Linked DNA regions of Homo sapiens: region 1 is linked to region 2. The links come from fine-mapping of genetic effects on gene expression. A gene starts in region 2. The other region holds a variant in brackets. All regions are shown on one strand. Distances are between the middles of the regions. Region 1 holds the start of LINC02408 (long intergenic non-protein coding RNA 2408). Region 2 holds the start of DYRK2 (dual specificity tyrosine phosphorylation regulated kinase 2).

The links. PIP is the estimated chance that this variant, and not a neighbour inherited with it, causes the effect.
Region 1: its variant is fine-mapped to the expression of DYRK2 in whole blood (INTERVAL, PIP above 0.99).

Annotation. Positions count from the first base shown.
Region 1 is chr12:67,509,544-67,520,859 of GRCh38, forward strand. It overlaps LINC02408 (long intergenic non-protein coding RNA 2408), which reads left to right and starts at 10,539. Exons shown (of 3, transcript NR_103861.1): 1 at 10,539-10,649. RefSeq lists an enhancer at 10,200-10,865. The variant A/G (reference allele first, on the strand shown) is at 6,243.
Region 2 is chr12:67,642,643-67,653,958 of GRCh38, forward strand. DYRK2 (dual specificity tyrosine phosphorylation regulated kinase 2) reads left to right here and starts at 6,103. Exons shown (of 3, transcript NM_006482.3): 1 at 6,103-6,540; 2 at 7,155-7,303. The coding sequence starts at 6,492. RefSeq lists silencers at 5,766-5,875, 5,976-6,275, 6,286-6,945, 7,106-7,495 and an enhancer at 8,576-8,625.

The DNA of each region.
Region 1 (11,316 bases), 130 kb before region 2:
TAGTGGTGTGTGCTTGTAGTCCCAGCTACTCGGGAGGCTGAGGCAGGAGAATCGCTTGAACTCGGGAGGTGGAGGTAGCAATGAGCCGAGATCGCGTCACTGTACTCAAGCCTGGCAACAGAGTGAGACTCCATCTAAAAAAAAAAGAAAAGGAAAAAATAAGCCAAAATAAATGCTTATTGTGCTATGCTACTGGGGCTTTGTGGTTGTTTGTTCCACAGCATAATGATGTTAAAAGATGACTGAAATATAGGGCAAGTCCCATAACTTATTCTGTTATTCAAAACCATCATAGTTGATCATGGCCTTATGTGTTTCCACATATGCATTTTAGATTTGGTTTGTCAAATTCCATGACCTGGTTTAACCCTTTTATACATAACTCAAATCCTAGGGTGCATTTTTTGCAGCATAGAACCCCTTCTAAGATTCCACCTTACATTATCCTCAAAGGTGAAGTTAACTAGACCATTTGTGGCTCCATTTTTGATAAGGTATTAATTTATTTGTATTTGCTTCGTCATATTATAATATCATTATCATGAGATGAAGGTTCTGTTGCCAAGGCAACCAAAAGTGATACATGAGCTTTCAGCTTTATCTAAAACCTTAACTATCTTTGGCCGTATTCCATGTACTTTCTTGGCTCTCTTGCCTTCATTCCTGAGGTTGAAAGAATGGACTATTCTACAATTCTGTCAGCGTCTTATGTTTTATATCTGTTCCCACCTCTACACACATCAGCATTCTCATCAATCTCTAAATTTACTAACTTAACTCACTTATTTTCTACTATTTATCCTTGAGAGCGCCTCTCCTTCTGTACAATGCTGAACAACATTCATTCAACATACATATAATGATTACCTAACATGGGCCTGGGCTCAAAAGTCCCAGGTCACAAAAGTAAATGAGACAGATGGAGCCTCCACCCTTCCATAAATAAGAAAAATAAGTTGGTGTTAGCTAGAGTTGGGGAAGGGCGCATCAGACAAAGAAAACAATATGTGATAAAACCCTGAGGTTTCTAGTAGGACAAGGAGTTTTAAAGGAGGCAATGTGGCTGAATATGAGTGTGTGAGAGTGAGAGGCACTTGAGATGCATCTGGAGAAGCAGTCAAGGGGAAAATCACAGTGGGCCTCGCAAGGTATCTGCACCACCTGTTGAGGAACGGAGTTGTAAAGGTCTGAAATGGGTAAGTCATCCAATAAAAGCTCATTTCTCTCCCTAGCCATGTGCTCCAATTAGTAGTAGAGGAAACCCACCATCATGGGTGTCTGTGGGTGCTGCACTCACACCAGGGAAGTCAGAAGTCTATCTTGGTAGCATGTCAGCCAACAAGCCTTACCTCCTTAGCCAAGGAGGGGCTGGGGGTCTAAGCTGAGCCAAACAGAGTTCCTCTGGGGAAATCTTGATGGTGTAACAGCCAGAGGAAAACATGACTTGGTCAGATTCATTTCACTGACAGCACAGTTACTGAACACAGTGTGTTCATTGGTCCTTGGAGCATACCTCCCAGGCCACTTCAGATCTAGATCCATGTGACATCTTGCTGAGATGGGGAAGAGACTCTTTCTCCCCCACCATCATGGGTTTCTTCAGGTGCTGCACTCACACCAGGGAAATCAGAAGTCAAGCGCAGGGGCATGGTTCTGTAGCATCACTCAATCTGGGGGATTATTCCACACACAGTAGGTCTCTCTTAATCATCTTCTTTAGGACTGGAAAGCCAGTGAGCCCCATGCATGTCCAGCAGATAACTGGTATCAGAGCCTCTGACATGGATAAGAGTAGATATATCTTTCCATAGAGATTCATTAATCTGGGGTCAGGCATGGGAAAACCAACCATGGTTTTACTGTCCCTAGCTTCTTTATTAGCTTCCTGTCACTTTTTGGTATCTTCATCCTCATTTTTTTTCTATCAGGTTCCCCAATTTCTCTTTAACTCCGGATTTTCTAATAACAAGCATACTCTCAGGAAATAGGGTATGTTGTATAGAGCATTTAAATATCGGTCATAGGGTGTAGCTAATCTGTGGCTTTTTGACCCCAGTTTTTAGAGCTGGGGTTTCTGATTCCCCCACTTACCTAATATGAAGAATTCTGAGTGAGCGAGTGTGTTTATTGGGCATTTATTGTTTTTGCCTGCCCGGCATCATTTCTTTCTCTCCTGGTAATGCCAGGACCCTGATTTCTCCTTTAAGGGCTGGCTCCTCTCCATAGCTTATTCTATCTTGGTGGCACATCAGCTAACAAGCCTTACCTCCTTAGCCATGGAGGGGCTGGGGGTCTAAGCTGAGCCAGAGTTCCTCTGGGGAAATCTTGATGGTCTAACAGCCAGAGGAAAACATATCTTGGTCAGATTCATTTCACTGACAGCACACAAAGAAATTGTGCCCACTAGGAACTAGTTCCTGCTATCTAGTGCCCAAAGCAGCTCCATTTCCTCTCCCACTCAATTTTCTTCCATTAAATCCCCAGTTTGCTTAAATTAGAAGCTAAGAAACAACTTAGCTTCTGTTGTTTGCAATGGGAGAAAAGTTCAACTCACAAAGTGCATGTGTGCATTTTTCTGGGGTATGGAATTCTTCAAGTTCTCAAAGGCATCCATAATCCAGAAGGGTTAAGAATCACTAGGTTAGATGATCATATCTGCCTTTGAGGAAGGATTGAATACATGCACCCTTGCAAATTAACAGGTGCTTGAGTCACTGAACTAAAAATTGTGGAATTTCTGGCATCCTCTGGCAAAGCAGAGTTATTTTTGGCAGAATGGATGTTTCTCAGGAACTTATAACATAATTGTAGAAATCCCCTAAATGAAAAGGCTAGTCCTGCCTTTACCCACAGTTGAGGTTTGCTTTCTGATCAAAGATACTCCTTTGCCACCACCTCAACCCATACTTGTTCTCACAGCATTTTTCTCTCCAGTCAAAAGAGCTCTTTCAGTGCACAGAAAAGTTAACAGCAACTATGGGAGTTAGGGTGGAATAAGTTAAGTCTGTCTCTAGGTCAGCATTTTCTCAAGTACCAAGTAGGATGCCCGAAAGGGTACGGGAACGTTGGGGCTCCAGAAACTCGGTCCAGCTTAGAAAATCAAAAGCACTTTTTCTATCTTTCCCTAGCTTTTGAAGTTATTAGAAGCCAAGTCTACTATTAAGTAAAATTGGATGGTTTTTTTGTTACAATTCTAAAATTAAAGGCTTTCAAAAAGAAAAAAGGAAAGAACAGGCAAGTAGAAACACTTTTGTGTCCAAACCACTAAAACGGGAAGCAGTTCCAATGTATACCCAACTTTTTGTTCCTATGTCATCCCAATGTGCCTTTTCCCACCGGAAAAATTATTTCAGCCTTATGCGAGGAACATCATTTTAAATTTTGGGTAGCTGTTTTGCATATTGCTATTTAATCATGGGCACACACCACACACACACACACACACACATACACACACACACACGAGAGAGAGACACTCGCTCACTCTCCTAAGTTCTCCTTCTGTATTTGCTTCCTTATCACTTGAAGTGAGGTGAGTTCAAAAACTTAAGTTTCTTTGTCTTAGTCTGCATCCAGAATCAAACTGTTGGCAACAATGGTGACATCATAAACTGATCTTGGTTCCTTGAAGAAAATGCTGCTGGGATGTCATAGAAGGCAGAGTGGGCAAATCTGATTGGTAACAGTGAGAGTTGAGTTTGAATAAGGACTTAGAAGCAGAGTAAAGCAAATGCTCATTTTAAGCTGAACTCACACTGGTCTCTCATGGGAAGGGGAAGCAGCAGCATTGTGTTCAACCACCATCATTTTCCAGTAATAGGACCCAAGGCCCACTGATTTTCAGAAAGAGAGTGTGATGGCAGCAGCCATTTAGTTGCCCTTGCCATCTCTTCTAACTCAGAAGGTTAATCATTAATTGTTTTAAAAAGCCATCTCACATTTCATCAGAATATTTTCCTTAATATAAATTTGTCATTTAATGCTAAGTATCAAGCAGTGCTGGACAGTCTACTGCACACTATTAGATGATAGCAATAAAAGAATACACGTTCTGGTTGGATGAGTAAAACCTTACCCAATAAGTAATTTTCATTCATAGCTTCTATTAATAGTAACAAAGCCAGTTATTACTTGCTGGGCAACTGGTACATTATACAGACTATGAAGGTGCTGCACATATGTGAGCTTAAATCCTTCCAGCAACCTAGGATGCCAGCTAGGCATGGTAGAGAACAGCTTGGCTTCCATGAAAAACCATGAGTTGTTTAGCACTCACCTTTCCCGTTTATCTCATTCTGATTCTATGGGGGACTTGGTGCCTTTCATTACCTTTGATGGTTATAGATAACCTACATGAAAGTGATTCTTGTCTGTAAGATACATAAATATATAGTATCCAAATGGAACTAAATTTAATTCTCCACCCCTTAACCCTCCCAACAGAAAAAGCCAGTTTCTGCCTATTTGTAAACTCATTTCAACATTCCTTTATATAAATTTGTGTTTCTTTTTACTTCTTCTTTGAACCAAATTTAACATTTGCCTGTTAAACAATATCTTTAGCATGTGCTCATTTTATATCTGTAGGAGGATCAGGATTTTGCATTTATATGTATACTTTAACAATATTATTAGCTCCATTTTACAGATGAAGATATTGAGGCTCAGAGTAAGATGACTTGCTGGGAACCATTAATGATGAAATGACCTGGCCAGGGTGAAACCCCTGTATGTTCTGACCCTACGGCCTATGTGCTTTCTTCTAATTGTGCATCTGCTCTATGCCAGGCGTGTGCTAAGTGTGTGGGAATATTATTTTAAGTCATTTAGATATTAGTGGCCTTTACTATCCTGAAATTATAGAGTTATAAAATCTCCATGATAATTTTATAGCTATGTGTGAGATAAAAATCAAGGCAAGAAAAAAAAAAAGGCAGAAGAAAAATCCCTAACAGTTGGAGAAAGGAGGATAATGGAGTGGTAAGAATACAATGGAATTAATCTTGGAAAGCTTTTTGGAAGTTTCTTAATTTGCATTGTCTAAATGGAAAAGGCATAAAAAAGAAGCCTGAAGAGTAAAGCCAACAACTTGTAAACTTGTGTCCTGAAGCTTCAAGTACTGTCGCTTAAGAAATAAGCAAGGAAATAGGATACCACTGCTTGTACATCTGTTATCTAACAGTGTAAAAAAAAAGTGACAAATGAGATGAGAACCTAGTCTAATCTCTTAATCATTCCCATATATAACTATTTTGCATGAAGTTTCCATGGGCCCTAAATATGATAGCGTCATTCTTAAAACTGCTTAAAACTGTCATTAGATTCACTACGTTTGTAGGCTAAACTCTAAACTCACTTTTTATCATACATTTTTTATCTGGTTCCTGCTATTTCTCATCTCTTCTGGTATCCAGCAGCATTTCTCTCTCTTTTTCTTTATTTCTTCCTCCTCCTCTCCTCTCTCTCCCCCTCTCTCTTCACACACACACACACACACACACACACACACACCACACCTACCTCACAATCTAGGCTCCTGACTCTTCAGAGAGTCCTGCAATTCTCCAGCCCACCAAGCTGTGTTGCAACTCAGCCTTTGTTGAACCTTCCTTTTGCCTTTAACACCGCCCTTTCCACCCCACCCTGCCTCGGCAAGTACTTATTCATTACGTGACGCTCAACTTAAGAATCACCTTCTTTATAAAAAATTCCTGATCCTGATTTGTGCAAAGCAGCCACCCCTATACATACATTCTGCCAGCATGTGTTTATGAATCCCTTGGTTGTGCTTCTTTGTTTACACACTTGCTTCCAGGGACCGTGTCTGCTTGATCTCCCTTCTCTCCCAGAAATTCCCACGATGCCTGCTGCATGGTTTGTGCTCAGTAATTGAACGCATTGTGCATCGGGGAGATGGCACATTGGCCTGTGTGATGGGCAAGGGGGTGGAGTACCAGAAGGGACCATAAAGTTCAGTGCATTCAAACCCTTCCCTTCATGGTGCAGAGAGAGCTGGAAGTATTCACAGAACATAGGAGGAAACTGAGGCATTGAAAGAGCTGAAAGTATCAATAGGACTCTTGCCCCTGAGTTTAGTACCCATTCCAACATGCCACACTACTTTCTGGGATGGTTGAGTGTGGGTGAGAGAGAGAGAGTTTATTTTCTGTTTTGCTTTTGTGGTGCTTTCATAATTTTGGTAAAGATATTTTTAAGTCAGAGCACAGGGCGGTTCAGTTTTC[A/G]TTACCCAACTTGGCATTTTCCTCTTGTCCACAGAGCAGCTCTGAGCCCTTATCATGGCCCTGTAACCACATCCTCTGCTGGGTCCAATGCGAAATCAACACTGTCAGTGAAAAACAAACACTAACAGGTGTGCAGCACATTGAGCGAGGGAGGGCGTTTATTCTACAGCAAGGGTCAGTAAACTGGAGGGAAGGAAAAAGCCGGTCCAGGTATGAGCAAACCGCCTGGGTCCCACAGCCCCCTCGGAGACAGGGAGAGGGTGCCAAAGGCTTCAAACAGCTGCTGTGGGCCTGCAACAACCAGGCCCACCTGTGAGCAAGCTGCAGAAATGGATTTTGGTAATTACATTCAAAGCTTCTGTCAGAGTCACATGTTAAAGCTTCTGGGATCTCTTAGATGAGATCCAGGCAAGTGTTGCTGAAATGCACACACTGATGATGATGCAGCAGACACTCCCCGGGTGTCCTCAGCTGCAGCACCTGCTAGGGACTGGGGAGCAGCAACGGTCACATTTAGGACAGGACATCTTTCATAGGATCTTGTTTCGGGGGAAACAAGACCTTTACAAAGTCTGCCCTGAGAGGAAATCTCCTGTTCTATATTCCTGAAGCTGCCACCCTGGTGTTCTTCCTGAACCAGGTGACTATACGATGCTGAGTAAAAATAATTACCAATAAGAGAGAGGAAGCAGTCTGTATGGAGCTCTGTGCTAGGCTATTCTTTATTTTTTTTATTTTTGAGACAGAGTCTCACTCTGTCACCCAGACTGGAGTGCAGTGGTGCGATCTCGGCTCACTACAACCTCCACCTCCAGAGTTCAAGCAATTCCCCTGCCTCAGCCTCCCGAGTAACTGGGATTACAGGCACATTCCACCATACCTGGCTAATTTTTGTATTTTTAGTAGAGGTGGGGTTTCACCATGTTGGTCAGGCTGGTCTCGAACTCCTGACCTCAAGCAATCTGCCTGCCTTGGCCTCCCAAAGTGCTGGGATTACAGGCGTGAGCCACTGTGCCCCACCGCGCTAGGCTCTTCTAAGTATGTATTGTCTTATCTAATCCTCACATCAACACTATGGGTAGATATTGTTATCAGCATCCTCTCTACTTTACAAATAAGGAAACAGAGGGAACAGGGTGAATTAAACTGCCCAAGGTTATGCAGCTAGCAGGTTTGTGGTAGAGCCAGGATTTAATTCCAGGTCGTTGGTTTCAGAGTGTGCGTTCTCAGGCCTCCAGGATGCTGCGATTGACCTGACAGTTCGCAGCCTTGGCTGTACATTAGAATCACCTGGGGAACTTTTAAAAATGCCAGTGCCAGGGCTCACCTCCAAAGATACAGATTTATATGGTTTAGGGTAGGCTGAGTACTAAAATGTGTGTGCCTGTGTGTGTATGTAATGTATAATATGTATGTGTGTGTGTACGTGTGTAATATGTCTTGTGCAACCAGATTAGCCTTAGTCACTTAAAGAGTGCAGCTGGCACAGGTAGGTGTTTCCCATCACGTCATCCAAGGAAAGTATTGAGGGGTGGCAGACAACATCGGAAGCCCAGCCACAGAAGGTCTGGCTCGGGCGTGGTGCCATGACTAAGGCTTGGGGAAGAATGCCAGAAAAAAGGAAGAGGCGGCCAAAAAAGGTGCTGTGCTAGAGAGACAAGAAAACCAACAGAGCCCCATTGCACCGTTTGCCAAGGGTGGCCGTGGAGAACTGCCAAGGGGGAAGACCACAGAGGTGACCACCTTCACGGCCGCACAGAGCGTTCCTGGAACTCCCCAGTACCAACAAGAATCAGGGTTCCCGGAAAAGTGTTTTAAGACAGAAACTTGCCTTATAAATCACATCTGTTGGAGGTACCAGGGGAGTATTTTGGGATCTGAAGTGTTCAGGGTAGGAGCCTTTTGAAACCAGGGACTGAGGCCGCGGAGATGTGAGTGCTAGGATGTCAGGGCTTCCCCAGCCCAGCAGTTGCGAGTCTGGAATCGGCTTGGTTCAGTTGCAAGTTACACTCTCACTCTCCTTACACCCTAGACATGTGTTTTAGAATTATAAAATTTGTGTCTGTTAAAGCCAAGTTAAAATAGCAAAAAAAAACCACTCAGTTTTATCACCCATGTGTAACAACTATTATTCAGTATATTCCTTTATATTGTTGTCATTTTTTCTGGACATAATTTTTCAACAGTGTATATAATGTATATGCAAATATTATAGCCTGCTTTTACACTCAAAATAATATGACCATTTATTCCTTAAGGAATATCCTTTCCTTCATAATAATTACACTAACAGTGACCAGTTATTGCTGGGTTTCTGAAAATTGAATAATCTATGAACTCATTCTATAGAAAAAAATTTGCATGAACATCTACCGGTAAAAATTGTTTTTATCTTTACTTAAATATACAGGACCTAAAACAAGTACTTTATAACATAAAGATGTACATCTATATGTTATATATCTACATCTGTCTCTCCTTTTTTATAAGGCCTAAAAACAAATGCTTTATTACTTGCAAACCACAACATCAAAACAATTTTATATGTTAAAAATAAGACAACAGGGAGGCTGAGGTGGGTGGATCACGAGGTCAAGAGATCAAGATGATCCTGGCCAACATGGTGAAACCCCGTCTCTGCTAAAAATACAAAAATTAGCTGGGCGTGGTGGTGTGTGCCTGTAGACCCAGCTACTCGGGAGGCTGAGGCAGGAGAATCGCTTGAACCCAGGAGGTGAAGATTGCAGTGAGCCGAGATCGTGCCACTGCAGTCCAGCCTGGCAACAGCGAGACTCCTTCTCAAAAAAAAAAAAAAAAAAAAAAAGCAACAAAACCAATAAAATTCACAATTATATATTGATGAAATGTGACAAGCATTGTTTAGTGAATTTAACTGTTGCTCATTGCTATGGTGCAGATATGTTGCCTTCTTGGTGCCAGTAGGACCAGTGCTGTGAGCTCACTCAGTTCCTATACCACTTTTCTCTGTTCTAAACTCTTAGGACATTTATGTGCACAACCTGAAGGCATCCTGGGCTTTCACTTGGCATAAACACTTCCTTTATATCAACTCTGATTTCCTTCTATTTTCTCTAGCTCATGACACTTCAAGTAGTACCATCTGGTACCAATTGTAATCATAAACACAGATTATGAATTGAGTTCCCAAACTGAATCCAAATAGATCTTTCAGCTGATCCGTAATATGGCTATATTAATTTTTAAATTGATTGAAAGGTAAACAGAAATGTAATAATGTTCCACAGAGAACTTCCAAACCTAGAAGACTTATCATCACACTCCTGTCATTTTGAGAAACACTGATTTATTGAATGCCTCACTTATACCAGGTAACTGAGCTGGAGCCACTTACCCCCTGTAACAACATATCATTCCCATTTCTCAGATGAGGTAGCCGAGGTTTGTAGAGGTTATGAAATGTGATGAAGAACATGGAGCTGTCAGGTGAAGGAGCTGTGATTCGAATCCTGGTCTCTGCCATTCCAAAGCCAGTGTCCTTGGACCATGATCTCACGTGGCCTTCCACAACTTCTTACAAAGTGTTCTTCTCCCATGTGGGGTTTAGCATGTTTATACTGACTGAGACCAGAGTTAGAGATAAATGATTGGTTTTTTCCCTTTAGAGAAAGCCTAGCGTTTGTCATTTATGGTGTATTTATTTGCTTATGAAAATAACCTAATGAGGATGGACCCTTTAAGATATTTCAGTAGATCTGGCAGTAGCCCAGGTGATTGGCAGTAGCTTGCCAGCTATTAAATCATTCTGAATATATGAAGAATTGTCATTTTCTTCTCAAAAGGGCTTTGTCACGTGGTGTAATCCCTGCACACACATTGGCATAAGCAGGAGCTGTCTCTGTGCAAATCCATTCTTGGAACCAATCATATTAACTTGATATTTCATGTTTTGGCCCAATACCATAAACTGGCACAAATAACACTAACCTTGCCACGCACTAAAGATTGGAATAATAAATCAGCCAGCCTGTAATTATATTGGGAGAGCCAGCTTTATTCTTTAGTGAGCAGATTGATGTATCTGTTTAGACTGGTTGCCTTTAGGGCTCTCTGGGAACCTGGTCTGACTTTCTAGTGCCCAGGCAGGCACTGCCCCAGATCACTGCATATATAGGTGAGTTCCCGCTGTGCAGGTCTGTCAGGACCAAACTGGTTTCCAAACCTGGCTGGCTTCTCCGCAAGGTGCATAGCTGTCAAAAGTGAAACAAAGCGAAGGGCTTGGGATGCCAGAAAGACAAAAGCTCATCCATCAGGCTCAGCAGGAAAGGCAGGGGAGGCAGCGGCGGGAAGCCTTCCTTAGCTGTGTGATCCTAGATGGCTGTTAACTTAGCATTTGAGGACTGTCTCAGATAGACACAATTGGACCAGGTAATTCCTTTGTCTGAATTCATGTCATTTCTTCAGCAATGGCAGAAAGGACTTGAAGCAGCAGGTCTAAGTGGGCAAAATAAGACAAAATAAGTGGGCAAAATACTGACTGGGACCAGGGCTAGAGATAAATGATTTTTTTTTTCCTTTAGAGAAAACCTAGCATTTGTCATTTATGATGTATTTATTTGCTTATGAAAATAACCTGATGAGGATGGACCCTTTAAGATAGTACAGTGGATTTGGCAGTAGACCAGGTGGTTGACACCTGGTATGACAAAATAATGTAGCAAAAACATTTCATATAGGGGGAAATATTCCCTGTCTGTTGTCTTGCTTGCTTCCAAGACAGTATGAAGAAGATTATATGAAATATTAATGAGGAGACGGGTAAGTCGGTGAAAGAAGGGGCCTACTCCTGAATCCTGCCATTAAAATTTGCAGATTAATTCCATTGGAATTTAAAACGTATCGTTGCATTGTGGCATCAAGTGTGAAGAGGTCCCGCCTGGATATATGTTCCTTGCCTGATTCCTGAATGGCTTAATTTGGCTTTGCCTGTCTGACTCATATGCCTTCCCCACATTAAATTGGATGGTTTATTTTCTGAGATCAAGTGGGCTATTTTGGCTTCATGGCTGTATCTCTTTGCTTTTGTGGTTTTCTC
Region 2 (11,316 bases):
CCCACCTGATGTGTGATATAGGCACTGTTTGTTAATTGTTATTCTCCTTGTGCTAGAATAGAAGATCCACGGAGCAAGGACTTGATCTGCTTTGTTCTGAATACCTAGATTAGTGCCTGACACATAACATAATAGGAGCTTGCTAATCAATACATATAGAATTAATGGATTAAGCCGCCAGTCAAGTTGGGTCCATTTTTACTGTGTATGAACAGTCTTAACAGTTTGAATGTAGGTGATTGCCCTTAGCCCATCCTTAGCTAAATAATTTCAGTTCCATTCAGTAAGGTTTTGTTGAATCTGTGCTAAGGCAGACCAGCAGCAGTGTCCAGTGTGGCTCTCACAGTGCTCACGGCACATACTTCTCCTCTCACTCACCACTTCTTAGCTAGGGGATGGCATGACTTTTGGTTAGAGTGGCACCAAAGACCCCATGACCTGGAACACCACAGAACTTTTTCCCTTTACTCTTCTCTGGTTTGCAAAATTGCACCATGGCTTCTCTCATAACAGATTCCCTAGTAGAGAATTTCAGAGTTTCTGTTGCTCCTTTTACATGTTCATTCCTCACCAGGTGCAAGGTCCAGCATGATCCCCAGGACCCAGGAATCAGCCTGTTCTTTGCTGGCTGCTCCCCGTGCAGCCCCATGGGCTTATCTCCTAGAGGCTGACTCCACTGGCACCTACTTTATAAGCTGTGTCAATTGCGTGGCCACTAGCCTGAGAAGACTGGTCTGGAAGCCAGCTGCTGGGACCCTACCTAGTCATGGCGCTCCTGTCCCTTTGAAGCTCCTGGATATACTGGACACCACTCCTCTGACATTTGTCCTGCTGGATCAAAGGAAGAGGTTTCAGCAGAGGTCCCACTGGGCTTTGTCTATGAGCTTTTTATTAAAGTACTCCAATCTCCAGGATGTAGCTTTCTCTTTTCCCTGCTTACTGGTTTTAAACATTAACTCTGTCCTTAGGATGCAGTTGGAAGAAAAGTCAGATGTATTGTTCCCAAGAAATTGCTGAATTAACTCTGCAGCCTTTCCAAATACCTAGATTGCCTTAGGAGGCAAATGTACCCCCCAACCTAGAATGGAGGAAACTGGCTCTGCAAGTGCCCTGACCGACATATAACCAACCTGCCCAAACACCTCATATCACCAACTTTCTAGCGGTATAGAAATCTCCTCTTGATTTCCACACCAGTAGTGGCCACAGAGCCACACTCCAGAGGCAAATTCAGATACCTTGTAGCCATTTGGTTATGACGGCCATGCCTCCTACTTCTGAAAAGTTTACATTAGTAGACTTTAGGCCATAAGGTCTTCATATTCTTTTCTAGGTAGTTCTGGACCTTGGTGATGGAGACATAGAAGGTACCGCCAGTTAGTGGTGTTCTCTTTTTTTTTTTTTTTTTTTTTTTTAGATGGAGTCTTACTCTGTCTCCCAGGCTGGAGTGCAGTGGCACAATCTTGGCTCACTGCAGCCTCCACCTCCTGGGTTCAAGCAATACTCCTGCCTCAGCCTCCCAGTAGCTGGGATTACAGGTGCCCGCCACCATGCCTGGCTAATTTTTTTGAATTTTTAGTAGCAACAGGGTTTCACTATGTTGGCCAGGCTGGTCTCAAACTCTTGACCTCAAGTGATCCACCCGCCTCGGCCTCCCAAAGTGCTGGGATTACAGGCATGAGCCACTGCACCTGGCCTGGTGTTCTCTTAAAGGGAGTTAGATCCACCTTCACCAAAATGAGTCAGTTCCTTAATAATTTATCTAGCTGCTCCAAAAGCCCCTGCACCTTGTTTTCACATATCCATAGCAGATAAAGTTTAGAATATTTCTTTATTTTTACTTTTTTTGTGGAGACAGGGTCTTGCTATGTTGTCCAGGCTAGTCTCAAACTCCTGGTCCTCCCTCCTCAGCTTCTCAAAGCACTGGGATTATAGGCATGAGCCATCATGCCTGGCCAAGTTTAGGATAATTCTTAACCTGACTTGATCTATCCATAAACCTAACCCTAGGAAGATAGCAGTACCACCCCTCTGCCTGGCACCCCAAGTTTCCTCTATTCTGAATTGCTTCCCCTTCCCCTGGGACACATCATGCTTTCTTACAACTTGACGCTTCTGAACATCCTATTTCTTCCACTTGGAATGTCCTAACCTGTCTCGCCTAACTTGCAAATTCCCACGCGTCTTTAAAACCTCCACTGAAGCACAGCCCCTGCCAGACACCACTTAAGTGGAGCTCGTCCCTCTCTCCTGTGTGCTATCTCTGTGACTCCTATATGCCTTCTTTACCACTCTTTTCACTTCATTAAATGTCTGGTCTCCCGTACGGAACTGTGAACTTCCTAGTAGCAGTGACCAGAGCCAGGGATTATTTAACTGTGTAGCCCCATGTCTTAGTTTGTTAGGGCTACTATAACAAAATACTATAACCTGGGTAACTGTAACAAACAGAAATTTGTTTCTCACAGTTCTGGAGGCTGGAAAGTTCAAGAGCGTGGTGCTGGCAGATTTAGTGTCTGGTGAGGGCCTGTTTCCTTGTTCATAAATGGTGCCTGCTCTCTGTGTCCCCACATGGTGGAAAAGGCTACTAACTCTCTGCAGTCACTTGATCTAACCACCTCCTAATACCATCACATTGTGGGTTAGGATTTCAAAATATAAATTTGGGGCGTACACAAACATTCAGACCATAACATTCCACCAACGGTGCCAAAAATATGTTAGGTTCTTATAGCTTATTGCTTAATTGAATAAAAGAATGAGTTCCTGGACAGGTGTGGTGACTCACGCCTGTAATCCTAGCACTTTGGGAGGCCGAGGCAGGTGGATCACTTGAGGTCAGGAGTTGGAGACCAGCCTGGCCAACGTGGTGAAACCCCGTCTCTACAAAAAATACAAAAATTAGCTAGGCGTGTTGGTGGGCACCTGTAGTCCCAGCTACTCGGGAGGCTAAGGCAGGAGAACCACTTGAACCATGAGGCAGAGGTTGCAGTGAGCTGAGATTGTGCCACTGCACTCCAGCCTGGGCAACACAGTGAAATTCTGTCTCAAAAAAACAAAAACAAAACAAAACAAGAATGAGTTCCTAATAGATTGCCAGACTGAAGTGTAGTCTACTGCATTTGATGATTCATCATGTCTCCTAGGCCTAGCACATACTAAATTCTTTGTAAATGTTTCTGGGATAAGGGGATTAAATGAGTAAATGTGTTTTGAAACCAGCAATTTTTATGTTCATTTCCAATTTTCCTTGTGATCAGTACTTTGCCCAGTGAAAAATCAACTTTCTTCCTCAAGGCTCTATTCTGAGTTCTCCTGTTTCTCTCTACTCCTGCTAGATCCTGCCTACCTCCTTGTTATCTGAATCTGGATTTTAAACATATAGAACACACAGAGTTTTTACAATGGGTGAAAACCAAAGAGCAGTCTCTTGCTAACTGAATGAAGCTTTTAAGGAGGTTCCTATTTAAAATGAAATCTGCTCTGGTGGAGTTATGAAGATTAAACATGGTAATATTTGTGAAAGTGTTTTATAAAGAGATCAAAATATGTGTAATTATATGAGATAATTGATAATGATGCATTATGATAATAAAATTTGAGGGAAATAACTCCCCAAATTTACCCACTTCACTCTCCCCAAAGCCCCAGGAGTGTGTTTGTACAGCTTTTCTATTTAACATTCACTCAGGGAGATGTCAATATTTAATAGAATATTTAACAGAATGAGGAAAATCTAAGCAATGGTTAATAGTCACTTAGAGGTCAGTAAAAATTAATATAATTTTCAAAGATGTACCATTTATAATCAAAATAGCTATGGGGTAGGTCAACTGCAATATTTCCTTATGTTAAGCCACAAAAAATATACAAAATTGAAATTATATTTGTCATGATATAAAACAATATACTACAAAAAGTTCCCTATTGTCTTTTTCTTTCTTAAAGTTAATGATTGTGATCCTTTGTCAAAAAAAAAAAAAAAAAAGAATCAGTGCTCCTTTTCCTCATGTTAAATGAGTAAATTAATATTACTAATTTGGAAATCGTAAACTATGGCTTCCAGTAACTAGCATTTATTTTATTCATGAGAAAACAGTGGCATATTTAGCTTCTACTGAAGTATTGTACGAATAACTTAAGCAAAAAGGGGTGTCATATTATATTAAAATTGATTTTTTTGTTTCATTTTTTTATTTGAACATCAGTTGTATGGAGTACTCATTTTAAAAAGGAAAATGGTATGAAAATAATTGTTTTGAAAGGAGAAAAAAGAGGTGTGAGCTTTCTTGAAAGTGTAAGGAAAGTAGTGTGATGGAAGTCATAGTGAAATCAGACTGGGAGTCAGAAAACCGGTTCTAGTGTCATCTCTGCTACTTAGTAGCCCTTTTCTTTTAGTCGATTCTAAACACTAAATATGCTTCCGCATGTGGATTTAAATGTGATGGTCGCCAGTGACAAGCATAGGGGGATATTTCTTGCTAGGGTCAGTTCAGGTCATGATTCCTCTAAAGGCATATTATTGGATTATTTTACTGTGGGTCTACTTTATTAGGAGAAGGCCCCGAAAGGGTGTTTTGTTTTGTTTTGTTTTGTTTTGTTTTGTTTGGAGGGACGTAATACTAGGGAAAATTCTTTTTGTCACAGGTTCCCTCTCCCAGTGACCCTAACTTGGAGGCCTCTTTAGGAGTCCCAGAGACTCTGAGAGGGTCACACTGTACCTTGAAACAGTTTTTGGCGTTTGTATAAAGCTGCGGATGCGCTCTGTAGGAGGTTGCTATGACAATTTGCAAACAGTAGAGTGGATGAAACTCCGCAGGAGGTGGCTCCCTTCCGACTGGAGTCTGCACTAGTTCGGGCCTGCACAGTAGGTCCAGCCAGGAGCCAGAGATACTCGGGCGGGGCAGAGCATAATGGACCCCTGGCCCCAAGAGAACTTCAGAAACTAGGCACCTCTCGAGAAGGAAGTGCATGGCATAACTCTGCCCCGTCATCCGGGATTTGTCGGGCTTTCCCACCCCACCTCCTCTCACAGTTGAAGTGGCAAAACCTGTGACCTTTGAACAGAGGCGCACTGTGTGCCACGCACGACGAGGCGCGGATGTGAGACGGGAAAGCAATTTTTTTTTGGTCTTCAAGGAAAAGAGAGGTTGTATATGGCGAATAAAAAAGGCAGGGAAATTCTCCACGTGTCTTGGAAGGGAAGGGGGAAAGAGATGTGTCGGGTGGGGTGAGAGGAATTCGAGGTGTCGCTCCCTCACCGCAGAGCTGAAAGGAAGGTGTGTCTCTCCCAGTGGCCGCGCAGGGGAAAGGCTCGGAGTTGTAAGGAAATAGGAGATGTCTCTGATGTTTATTTTTGCCTAGCAACCCACAGCCAACTGCTTCCCCAGCTGCCGTCCACACGCGCCTCTCTGCCTCCCCTTGTCCTAGCGACTGGCGAGCGGTCACTTGGTGTCAGTAAACCGGGGAGGGTGTGTGGTGGAGGTGGGAGGGCAGCCCCCTCTTTCGCCCCTGCTCAGGGTCAACGAGCTCAGCGGCCGCCCCTCCCGGGACTTGCCTCTCCGAGGTGACCCTCGCACAACTAAGTTATCTACATGATGAATTGGGGAGAGGGGAGTGGCTAAGTCGCTGGGACCAAGAATGGGGGGACGGGGAAGCAGTACTGTCTGTGAGCAGCCATTCAGTTCGAAGAGCTGAAAATGCATTTATGTTTAGGGGTGCGCATGGCAGGGGAGGGGTCTCTGCGGCGCTTTCGGCCGGAGGGCAGCAGCGGTAGGTTGAGCTGTAGGGCAGAGAAGGGGCGCCGCGGGGCCGGGGAGGGGAAAAGGTCGCCGGAGTGGAGCCGAGGGAAGCAGTGCAGATGGCCGGAGGGGGCGGAGGAGGGCGAGCGGAGGCCGCCGAGTTTTCCGGGGAGCGGAGGGGCGGCTGCGCGCAAACCGGGGGACTGAGAGGAGCCGGGCGGGAGGTTGGGTGGGGGTGGGGTGTGCGTGGCCGCGGCCGGGGGAGCCGGGGGCGGGGCCTGCGGCGGCGGAGGAGGGCGGCGGAGGGCGGCGGGGGCGGGGCCGCGCGCCGGCGCCTGTGTGTGAGTGCGCGGGGGCGCGCGCGCGCGGGCCCGGGAGAGGCTCCCGAGCCAGGCGGTCTTCGGTCCTCGCAGCGCTTCCAGCTCCCCGCGCCCCTATGTGAGGGAGACGGGGAGGCCCGCGGCGCGCAGGGGAGGGCGAGGCATGTGCACGGGCCGGAGGGTGCTGCAGCCGCCCGAGGAAGAGGAGGACGGCGGCGAGGAGGAGAGCGGGGGGCTCGCGGCGGCGGGCCCCGGCCGAGGGGATGCAGTGGACTGTGTGTGTCTGGCTGTAGCAGACGCGAGGCGGCGACGAGGCGCCGGGGACCCGCGCGAGGGGCGGCCGGGAGGCGGCGGCGGCGGCCGCCAGAAGTAGCAGCAGGACCGGCGGCGGCGACGGCAGCCCTGAAATGCATTTTCCTCTCCAGCGGCCATGTTAACCAGGAAACCTTCGGCCGCCGCTCCCGCCGCCTACCCGACCGGTAAGGAGGCCGTGCCGCCGCGCCGCATCCCCGGACCCCCGCCGGCCCTGGGCAGCCCCTGTGGCGCGGGCGGCCGCTGCCTGCGGGACCTCGAACAAAGTCGGCGGCGCGGCGCGGGGGAGCCCCCGGGCGGACGACGCGCCCCGGGCTCCATGCAGGGTTGTGCGCGGCCCCGAAGGCCCCTCCGCGGGGAGCCCTCGGCCCGAAGAGGCTTCTGCCTGCCGGGGGCCCGGGCGGGGACCGTCCAGGCCTGCCGCCCCGCCCTGCGCTGCCCGGGGCTTGGCGTGGCCGTGGCTCCCTGCTCAGCTGTCCAAACCCACCTCCCGGCTGCTGGCCGTCTGCAACGTGGGCCGCCTAGCCCCGGCGCGGCCCGGCTCCCCCGCCGGGTCGCGAACTCGCGCGCCAGGGCCCCACTTAACTTTGCAGCTGCCCGCGCCCCGCCCGTGGGTGTGCGCTGGGGAGCCGTGACCCGAACGCCCGTTTTTACTGCCCCGGTCTCTTCCTCCGTCTTTCTTTGGAAGAGGGTTGTCGCTGCCCAGCGGGGTTGGAGGGGGGGTCTGGGTGACTTTCTCCCCCCTGACCCTCTTTTGTCTCCTCCCGCACGTGGCTTCCAGGCCGAGGTGGGGACAGCGCCGTTCGTCAGCTTCAGGCTTCCCCGGGGCTCGGTGCAGGGGCCACCCGGAGCGGAGTGGGGACTGGCCCGCCCTCCCCCATCGCCCTGCCGCCTCTCCGGGCCAGCAACGCTGCCGCCGCAGCCCACACGGTGAGACCCAGCCCGCGGGCGGCCCGGGCGGTGGGGGCGGGAGGGGCCCCAGGCCGAAGCACCCGGACTTGGAGGGGTCTGACGCCGGGAGAAGAGGGGTCGAGATACAAGCAGCCCCACGCCTCGGGCCGATGGTCTCTCGTCGACGCCGCCCTGGTTAAGTTGGGCGAGCCCAAAGCTGCAGCCACAAAGGAAGATTCGTGGCGTGGGCCCCTTACTTCCCCTCCAGAGCTCGCCCACCCATGACCTCCTCTTCCTAGGAACTTCCTCCTTGCTGCTTTCCTTCTTTCCTCATTTTTCGTCCTTGCATCCCAGAGTTCCCTTCCCTGACCCGGTAAACATCTCTGTCCTTCCCCCACCTCCCCGTGGGTAGTGGGTATTTATAGAAACAGATACGTGTTAGGGGACAGCCAGACCGGCCTGCCCGGAAAATCGATCCCCCAAAGAGCCTCCCAGGCCTGGCTCCAGCCAGCAGGGAGCATCGCCAATTGTCCCCCGCGTGTGTAAGCATGTTTTATGAGTGCTACAGGTTTGAGCACAGCAGAAATTGTAATCAACATTAACAAAAATAAGGGCCGCCGCAGCAGTCAAAACAAGCCACCCCTGTAGGATTCTGCAGTTGGACATTATTCAAAAGGAAAGGGCAAGCGTTGCTTTGGAGGTGGGAAAGAAAAAGCACCTAACAGGTGCTGTGGTCTCTGGGAGGGGAGAGGCCAGCGTGGGACTGGTTGCTGGTGGCTGCGGAGACTGGCAAGCTGGATTCGACTAAAGCATGTACCTTTTCTCAGCTCCCAGGGATCACCCTTGGATGGTGATGGCCAGCCTGGAGGAGGTCTGCACTTGGAGGAGGTGATGGTTTGGAGGTCTTTTTTTCCCAATTGGATTTTCCACAGGAACAGCCTAAGATGGTTCTGTGTGAGGGAGGCTTGCTAGGGATTGGTTTTATTTGCTAAGTGAAAGTTGAGTTCTTGAAGAAAAGGCCATCTCCGGTCTACAGGGGAGTAGCTCTGGGGACATATGTTATGGGGAAACTTGTTTGTCAGAGAACTGTGAGGGGATGTCTAGACTGTAGTTGCACCTGTTAGACTTGGAGAGATGTGTGCAAGTTTCGTAGGAAAATGTTTTGTTGCTGTTACTATCTTCCCCCTCCCTCTGTCTGTCTCTCTATCCTGACACATCTGGTCCCAGGGGCTGGGAATTCATTGCACAGAGGTTAACTAACCTGTGTTGGACTGTGGATGGTATAGTAGGATGGATGATTCTGTATATTACTGTTAAGTGTTCTTGTCACAGTGATATTTAAGGGACTGCCATTGATTTTAGGGGTTTGGATTTTTTTGTTTGGGATCATCTGACAATTTGGAAAATATAATACCCAGTTTTTTGCTATGTGTTGATGTAATCACATGACATGGTGTGAGCTGGAAAAAGAACTATTTGGTTTGCATGTGGATTCCAATTTTGTAAGGATGGGCTTTGCTTGATCAGAGCCTCTTTGCAATTGAAATACATGTAATGAAAGTAGATGAAACGACAAGTCTCCACTGGAGGGAGAGCCTGTGGTGCACCAGAAAAGGAAGGATGCGAATGTGCTTCTCAGTACTCCTCATAATGGAGGCCTGTATTTTGCTGTGGCATATGCCAGATTTACTTGTTTTTAACGTGTGTGTAAACTTCGGTATGCTGTTAATTATTAGATGCTTGACTTTGAAGGTGTGAATTTGGGTTTCGATGGTGGTTTAGTTTTGATTTTATTTCTATAACATAGCAGATTTCATAGTACAGGAAAGGTTACAAGGACCACAGAGTTTATCTGGTTCTATTCTTTCAATTTATAGATGAGGAAACAGACTCAGACAAGGTAACTGGTTTCATCAAGATTCCCCAGCCAGTTCATATCAAGGCCAGAGTGAAAGCCTACATCCTCCTGCATCTAGTTTTAATATACTGATGGAGACTGCTAATTCTAGGAAATTGTACTAGCCTCATTATAAATGCAAGAACCTTTGTAGATCCATATTCCCATATGTCTGTCAGATTTTTATAAATTTTTAGTTATTATTTCCAGAGTAATTACACCTAGGAAGAACTTCTAGAATGAATGGGGGGCGGGAGGGCATTAAGGAGATAAAAATGATCTTGTCATAGGAGCTTGCCCACATTTTCTCTTACAGGTGATATAGTAGGCAGGTTAAATATATGATTATAAAGATTATAAACTTTGGAATTTATCTAGACCATTGCCCTTTTGTTTTATATCTCCATGTATAAGTTGTTTTACACTTTAGTTATTTCTGTTTGTGTGAGAGAGAGAAGTGTGCCCAATCACTGTCTTACTTCCTATTATTTTTCTATTAATGTTAATTGGTAGTTATTAATAGAAGTATTTTTAAATTCAAAAATATTAAAATATGTATAACTTTTGTAACTGTTTTACTATGTAAAACACTCCAGTTATCAGTTTTACCTTTATAAAATAATTCAAATTGAAATACACATTTTAAAAAATGGCAGTATTTTGAAGAAGAAAAAGTAGACATTTTTCTTTCTGACAGGGCCACACAGACTGTCAGAATGTTTGAGGAGGAGCTAAAATTCCAGTCTTTTTGGACTCAATTCTATTACCATAATACTATACAGCATTTCTAAGATGACTTCAGAAAAGTTTTTAAACGCCCAAGACTATTATCACAGTGGAATATCTGCTGTTTGCCATTTTCTTATTGGAAGAAATGAAAACTACCAAACTGGTTAGACTATTGTTTTTATATAATATTTAATACCAAAGTACTTGATGATCAAAGAAGCCTTTGCAGGTCTCTCAATTCGAACCCATAAATTGTAGCTATTTTAACAATTGTATTATGTTTTTATTTTTTGTTTTGTTTTGTTTTGTTTTTTTGAGACGGAGTCTCACTCTGTTGCCCAGGCTGGAGTGCAGTGGCTCCATCTCGGCTCACTGCAACCTCCGCCTCCGGGGTTCAAGCGATTCTCTTGCCTTAGCCACCCAAGTAGCTGGGATTACAGGCACCCGCCACCATGCCTGGCTAATTTTTGTATTTTTAGTAGAGATGGGGTTTCACCATGTTGGCCAGGTTGGTTATGAACTCCTGACCTCAAATGATCCACCTGCCTCAGCCTCCCAAAGTGCTGGGATTACAGGATTGAGCCCCTGTGCCCGGCCTCAGTATGTATTTTTAAATGTGACACACACTGTGCTATACATTGGCATATCGGAATAAGCCATGATCTCAGACTTCAAGAGGCTGAGCTGGAGGGAGAGGTTTTTAGTATCCTTAAGTTTATGATGTAGTCTTGACATACGTATTCTGGAAATGTTCTGGCATTTCTAGTCCCTCAGCACCCCCACCCTGCTCTCTGCCCCATTTTTTATAAGTCAGTTAATTGTGCTTTTGAGCTTGATTGTGATTTTAGAGTCCTGCAATGTTTGAGATTCAAAGTCTTCTTTTGCTAGAGCTTCTCAAATGAATCTCTAACATCTGGAAAGCTTTTAAGATTGCATGTGTTGCTTTTAGGTGTTTGGTTGATGTGTTTGTTGCAAGTGTTTTATACATGGTTTGATTGATGTGTCTGCTACAGGTACTTTATGCTTGGAGGTCCTTGGCCTCCAAGTCTGTGCGGATCCACTGCAAGCCTAACGTCTTGTGACTTAGGTCACCAGGGACGTTTCTTAATTCCCTGGGCCTTGACTTCATGTTTCCTTATGAAGGTACACAATGTAGTTCTCAGGAACAACTCCAAGAGAGGCAAGAGTTAACAAGGAGGATCTATTGGCATGTGTTCTTCCATCCCAAAGATATTTATTGAGGGCTTACTATATGCCTGGGTTTATGTTAATGAGGACTTGGAAACATAAGAGGGGACCCAGCCCTGGAATTGCTCACAGCCAGATGAGTACATCTGATGTTAAAACAATTGCAATAAAGAGAAATAAGTAAAAGGGTGAATCACCTAGGTATGAGAAAGGAGATTACAAGAAATATCTGGAAAGG